Homo sapiens: one gene and its partner. The protein of the gene in region 1 purifies or fractionates together with the protein of each later gene. This does not show direct contact. Each region holds a gene or a part of one and is shown on either strand. Other genes may lie near its edges.

What was found.
Region 2: the proteins of OLA1 (region 1) and LEMD3 fractionate together in Homo sapiens (co-fractionation; one large-scale study listed by BioGRID). This does not show direct contact.

What each region holds. Positions count from the first base shown.
Region 1 is NC_000002.12:174,080,906-174,084,735, reverse strand, and holds part of OLA1 (obg-like ATPase 1), read left to right. Parts: intron 1-2,671; coding exon 2,672-2,812; intron 2,813-3,487; coding exon 3,488-3,584; intron 3,585-3,830. UniProt on the Homo sapiens protein: Hydrolyzes ATP, and can also hydrolyze GTP with lower efficiency. Has lower affinity for GTP.
Region 2 is NC_000012.12:65,214,304-65,218,133, reverse strand, and holds part of LEMD3 (inner nuclear membrane protein Man1), read right to left. Parts: intron 2,158-3,830; coding exon 2,091-2,157; intron 1-2,090.

The DNA of each region.
Region 1 (3,830 bases):
AATAGCACACATTTTTGAGATGACTAGCTATAGTTTGGGGTATGGTTTGTAGAAAGAGAATAGACATTTTTCTGCAAAAGGTAACTGGTCCCCATGGGGTTCAGATTTGTGATCTTGGCCTCATTATCACACTTTTGTAACCATCAGACCTAATAGATACACCACATATATTTCAGTCTATAATCTTGAAATCAAATAATATTTTTAATTACCCTAGGTTTATTTCATAGATGTAATTAAAAATCATTTTGGGACATTTCCCACTTTTGTTTGATAGTAAAAGTCACAAAAGTAAAGCAGACAGCCAAAGAACCTCACTCACTTTTCATCTTCCCTGTGTTTTCTATGACAGTGAAAGTCACAAAAGTGAAGCTGGCAGGCAAAGAGCCTAACTCACTTTACGGGAGAGTGCTACGGTACCTTTTTCTTTTAGTGAGGCTATAGCAGGTCTGATGTCAGTCACTTTAGAGACCTTTAGACCTCAGTGCTCATTTACTGCTAAAATGTACCAGCTCTGCTTCTGCATTATGAAGATCATCTGTCAACACTTTGAGATATTCTCCTTTGTTATTAAGCTTGTGATGCTCTACACTGTCAGGTTTTTTGCCAATTATAGTTAAGGTACAATAGTGTATTCACCAGATCAAAGTCTCACATTGGCGGTAGAGGAATGATTTGTAAGTCTTTATTCATTTGAATTGTACAATAGAACACCTGAGGAATGCAAATAATCCCTCTGAGAACTCTGCAGGAAAGGCTGTTAAAATGACAGGGTAGGACTATTGTTATTCTGAATTGATGTGTTAGCTAAAGTAATTATTTCTTATCTTGTTGTTTCATAACAGTTCTAGTTTTATTAGTTCTGTTGACCATATTTATGAAATAAAGTGTGTATGATATTTTTATATTCTCCTTTTACATGGGCTTGTTTTATTTCACTTTCATTGAATCTATTTGGTATGTGATCTGCTTTTTTAAAATTACATATTTGATTTTAACTTGTATAATGAAAGTAAGTTACTAAACCATTGATGATAACATTTGAATATAGACTTTTGTTTGAATAGTGTAAGTCTGTGAAGTAACTTAGAATACCATAATGTTAACGGAGACAGAAGCACCAATTTCAGTCCCCCCACCTTTTTTTTAACCTGTCCTTCTTAATTTTGGTTAAGAAAACATCTAGTTTGAATTTTATGTTAAAGGCAACATAAATCATAGGACTTGGTCCATTTTTTGGGATATGAACAAAAGAAAAAATACTATTATGAAGATTGAAAACCACAAATAACATACTAAATAAGTAGTTACCTTTGTATAACAAACATATACAAACTCTTGTGTGATTGTTTTTCATTCCTTTCTCCCATCCTAAATCCTGCTCAATGGGCCATAGTCTTAATTTTCTAATAACTCTGCTCCCCTGCCATTGATGGATTTGTGACTTAGTTCTTGTTTTTCTTTTCCCCTAAAGTGGCATTTACATTAATTATTTAAAGGACTTCTGCCACAGCATTTTGCCATAATAACTATTAAAACCTTTGTCTAAATATAGCAGTCTAGTGGAATTATGTAAGCCTATAGCATAATTTTATAAAAATTTTAATGGAATGTATAGTCTCACACTAAACTCAGTTCCAGATTCATAGGAATGTATGCTATGATTATCTGAGAAGGAAAATTAATAATAGTAACTGCTGTTAATTCTTTACTATTTGCAGGCTTTTCTAGGTTCCTTACAATATAATATGTACTATTATTATCTCTATTTTTACAAGTGAGGAAACTGAGGCTTAGAAACGTTCAGTAACCTGCCCAGTAATAAAAAGCTAGGAAAGTGTTAGGCTCTGAACCTAATTAATATATTCACTACACTTATTTCATTTATGTTCTAATTACTACTTTGCCAAATACTCCATGCTTTGGAAGGAAAAAAAATGACTCAATAATGTCTTTTCAGGTAACAACTAGGATCAGTTTCCTAACTGATTTGGCTTTCCAAATCCTTTGTGATTAAAGGAATTTCTTTCCTCTGCAGTTCTATTATTCTTGTTCTCACAAAAGTCAGGTTCATACAGCTGCGTACGTGATCAACCATATTTGTAAATCTGTATTTCTGCACGTGCTTGTTCTGGCTAGGAAAAAGCTTCCTCAAAACTAGTGACCACTGTGAGTTCTGTTAGTCCATGAAGGAACTAAACCAGGCATATAGATATCTGGCTGGAACAAATTATTTATTTGTGAAGGGCTCTTCAGAATTAGCTGGTATTTTTAGGTATGATTCCTGTACAAACAGAACTTTATGTCTTCTTTTAAAAATTTACTTTGTAAAGTAAGGAAAACAAAAAATTATAAAATGGAAGCTTTATTCAAGGGTACAGGTGTTAATGCTGAACAATTTTAGTGTAACTAAAAAAAGTTTTTAAATATTTGTATAATAGTTTCCATAGATAATGTGCTAAAGTAAAACTAGGTTACAGTAAAATACTATGGCGTATACCTGAAGCAGTTGCTGCCTGTTAATGCCTTGACCTTGGAAAGCTATATACAAAAAGATGGCATCATAAAACCGTGCAATTCTTATGAATATGTATGTGCTACTTGATAATAATGAATGTGGTACAGTCATGCATGCACTACAAGATAATGTTGTGCCCTTTTTTGTCTACAGGTTGATAAAAATTAAAGAGTGGGTGGACAAGTATGACCCAGGTGCTTTGGTCATTCCTTTTAGTGGGGCCTTGGAACTCAAGTTGCAAGAATTGAGTGCTGAGGAGAGACAGAAGTATCTGGAAGCGAACATGACACAAAGGTTAATTAGCATTCATTTTCCCTACACTTTATTATCAACTATTTCCTTGCAGTAATTTAATTGCTTGCGCTGATAGAATAATAAATGACAGAGTAATTACCATTATAAAGAGGGAATCTTCTCCTTTCTTTACCATGAGACAGAGTGAAAAGATTTATTTTAAATTAAGTTTTTAACTGTCATCTGTCATCTCCGTACAGTGTTTTAATTATAACATAGGTATTAGTTATGTATATTTTTGAGAAGGAATGATCGCCAAAACTCTTTCGTCATGTTCAGTGGGGGAGGGGAAAGGGTGAATCAGTTGCCATAATTTTTTCTGAGTAACAGTAATATATTGTTTAAATATCAGATTTCAATCAAATAATTTTGCTTTTATGGCCAGGTCCTGGAAATAATTAATTTTGGATGAAAATAGTCATAATTTTTCTTTTTTTAAATAGCAAACAATTCAAAATAATATCTTCAGGCTAATACAATTAAAACCAATTTTAGAAGAGAGGTTTTTAAAAACAGTTACTTGCTTTCTGAACCCTTCCAGTGTATTCTGAAAGATGAATGGTCATTTACTACTATCTTTAACATTTTCTGCTTGAAATGAATAATTTTAGCTCTATACCAATTTCTGGCACAATCAACTTATGTGTTGGGTGAATTTGTTTCATTTGATTTCAGTGCTTTGCCAAAGATCATTAAGGCTGGGTTTGCAGCACTCCAACTAGAATACTTTTTCACTGCAGGCCCAGATGAAGTGCGTGCATGGACCATCAGGGTAAGATTCATACTTATTCATCAGCTATATCCAGTTCCACACTATTGAATTCAGATTGATATCACTGACTTTGAAGTTTGTCATGGTGGCGGTTAGCTAGTCATTACAGATGAGGTTTTTGTCCAGGATAACTTTAATTATTTGTGAGCTGCTGAACAGTGAAAGTGGAGCGGCATTGATTGAGGCAGGTAACAATTGATTCTGCCTATTACATAGTCTGAATTTCTTCATCCTGTAGAATCTGTC
Region 2 (3,830 bases), on another chromosome or scaffold:
AACTTAACTTACACATCTATTCTTAAAGCTAATCATTTAAGGGTTCAAATAAGTTTGAATTTATTAATGAATTAAAGTATGTGCATTTTCAGAGTATAACTAATCCTATCTTTAGCAAGGGGTGTGCATGCCTTAAAAACTGTTATAACATAACCAGGTGTGGTAGTATGCATCTGTTGTCCCAATTATTCGGGAAGCAGAGGCGAGAAGACAGCTTGACTCCATAAATTTGAAGCTGCAGTGAGCTGTGATCACCCTACTTCACTCCAGCCTGAGTGACAGAAAAGATCCTGTCTCAAAAAAATCTTAAAAAACAAAAATTGTTATAACAGACCAACAGGGAAATCAGGTACAAGTTTCCACCTATGATCTGGTTTCTACAAAGGGATGTGCTCATATAAATCTTTGGAAAACTACATTTATCTTTTCTTTTAATTGTTGATAAGAAGCGAATTCAGGGCTTTTTCTTTAGACTATAAGTGGTTATTAGAAATAAATTATCCTCATATTGAACTCCAATTGTCATGTTTTCCCTTCCCTGTGTCTTTCAAGTAGTTAAAAAGCTTGTTAACATGAAAGTAGAATAATTAAAGTAAAATCCTTGCCAAATGTTTCTAAAATAAAAGCAGCCATGTTCTCATTTCAGTTTTGTTCAAGTAATCATTTTAATGTCAGTAGCTATAAAAAGGGGAGAAGTACCTATCAGATGAACAAGTCTTGAAAGTTTATTAGTGCATCCTCAGAGATTTAGATCCCATAGATTTAGAGCAGAGGTCTGCAAATTACAGCCCATGGGTCAAATCTGGCCTACTCTGGTTTTTATAAATGAAGTTTTACTGGAATACAGCCAAGCTCATTCACTTATGTAGTATTTATGGCTGCTTTCATGGTATAACATAACTGAGTGGTTGTGACAGAGGCAAACTAACCTACAAAGCCTAAAATATCCACTATCTGACCCTTCACAGAAAAAAAGCTTGTTGACCCTTACTCAAGGGGAAGGAATCTGTATCTTTAAAAGCACATCAGATTATGCTGATTTAGCTGGCCATGAACCATACTTGATAAAACAATGCTACAGAGATAGCTGTAGAAGCTTGTGTTAGCAATATCCCTAGCTAGCATAACTAGCATATACTTAACCTATCTCTGGGTGCTACAGCATACCAAATAAATGTCATTAGCTTGAAGTGTGTGAATGACAATCAAAGCAAAGAAGGCTTTTAGCGATATAATACAGAATTAAAAGCTTAAAAAATTGACCAGAATTAAGAACCCAATGTACAAAACAAAGAGAGATCAGAGGATGGGAAACTGTCAGGATCCTAAATACCTCCATTCAACCAGAGAAGTTCCATATTTACCTATAGGCTGCTACCAATAATCTGGTTTACACAAAAGTTCTGCTACATAGAAAAGTTTGAAAACTGCATTTTTCTTTTCTTATGCCTGCTTACAAGAATCCAAGTCTCTTCTTTCAGATTATATGTTTAAAAAAAAAAAAGAACTAAAAAAAGGTAATAGATAAGCTGCTACTGCAGTTTACATGTGCTAAACTTGATACTAATTAATCTATAATAAATTATTCCCATTTCGGACAAGTTGACTACCTTAGAGCTCTCAAAGAATTACTAAGAGCAGACTATGAGGAAAATGCAATTAATCCGGAGAGAAAATTACAGGAGAATAAATTTACTTTATCAAACAGAATGATACCTATACAACCAACAAAAGAAAATCTGCATTTGTATATTTAATCCAAGATTTTAGTTAATTCACTGCTTACCTAATTCCTCTGATACTTAAGCTTTCCAGATTTTTTGTTACCACTGATGCAATAAAGAAATTTGATCAACTTTATAACTATATTATATATATATATTACCTCTAATACAGATGGCAGGCAGGAAAAAAGCCTTCATTAAATACATATGTAAAAATCAAAAATCACTCTGTATAGGTAATGAAAACTTCTAAAGAAAAATATTTCACAAATATAACACTGGACTTGGAAAAATATTTTCTACTAATAACATGCTACATACATTTTTCAAAACATTTTTAGCAACTATAAAAGTTAAAACAATTACCTGCAAGCTGTGCCAATCGATCATGAAGCTTATATAATGTGTTCATCATAAGAGTTTTTTCACTTTCCTAAAATTAAGAGAAGTTATTATGAAATACCCAATTACAAGAAAAAAAACACCAAATAATTCTTAATCAAAAAAAAAAAAACAGTAAATTTAAAATCACAGAAGCCACATAATCTGAAAGACAAATTCACATTTAAGTAATGGGCACCATATTTTTAAGAAACCTTAATCTAAGACTCTAAATTATTACTCTAAATATTTCACTTTCTGGAGAACGATTTAAAAATTGGCATAAGGTTAGTGCTAAAAAAAAGGTCTCACAGACAATAAACTCCATCAATCACCAAAGCAATGTTCCCAATCCCCCTCTGCACAGTGTATTCTTATGTAAACTGTTCATATGAGACTGTTTTCTTCATCAAGGCTGCCCTTCATGTCTTGTTTTAATCTAACTCAACCACATAAAACTAAGGGAATGAGTACTGGCACGTTGACTGATACTCAGTCCTCTCCTAGGCTCCCAAGGTGCCCCTGTATAAACTTATGAACTGTTAAAATGAAACAAACATTAAATAAACATCTACTAGGAGTTAAGAACTGTTCTCTCAGCAAAGCGAGAGACCCAGTGAACAAGATGGTTCCTGTACTCAAGGGCAAAAAACATATTAAATGTTATACAACTGCAGAGTAATACAGAAGATTCTCTTCCCTCCTTCTTCTGTAAATATAGAAGGAGGGAAGGAGGGAACAGAATTTATGGAACAGAATATTTGAGTTTGATTTAAAAGGAAAAACTAACAGATCAGCATCCTAGGCAATGGGAAAGACCCTGAGCAAGGGCATGAAGGCATGAAAGCATTGGTTATATTTCTTACATAACCAGTAGCCCTTGTTTGATTCTGCAAACTACTAGAAAAGTTGTTTAGTATTAACTACCAGACAGCCTTGGATAGCAAGACAGAGAGTTTGACTTCATTCTGAAAATTTAGCAGGAGAGTAAAACAGACTTGTGCATCAGGAATACTACCCGGGCCAGAATGTACAATGTATAGGCTGGCTCGGAAGCAGAAATAATTGTATGAAAAGAGTCCAGATAGAGAATTATTGCAATGGTACAGCCTAAGTACCTGCCAAGTAGTCTAAAGCAACAAGACCTCCAATTTAAGAGCAATTACGATCAGGAGGGATCGACATAAATGATGGAGGGTAGGGTGGGGAGGGGGTAATAGCTTATTGCACTACCTAAAATAAGTCCATGATTTATCAGGGGGCTCTGTCTTTATTACTTTCTTTCTTCCTGAAGTTTCCAACAAAACAGATTTACTGGATGAACAGATCATGGAGCAAATTGAAGCAAGATATAAAAGACTGGAAAAGTAACATTTATATGTCTAATAACATGCAACCTCATCCATTTATTTTGTGGTGTATGTGCAGGGACAGAAGAGAACATGTTTGCACACTATGGGTGGCATGCTTTTGTCATTGCAGCTTTAATCGGTTATACTAAGAGGAAAACTCATCAAAAGTGCCAAGATCCTACCACCAGAATACCTGGTTTTATGTCAGACGGTTGACTGAGATAAGTTACTTATTCATTCAGTTTACTACTTGCCTTCCTACGTATATATATATATTTTTGCCTCAATTTTATCTTAATCAGATTCTGAATCAAGCCAGTCCTTATCTTCACATAAGATCAAAAATTCAAACTGCAAAATTAGACATCAAAAA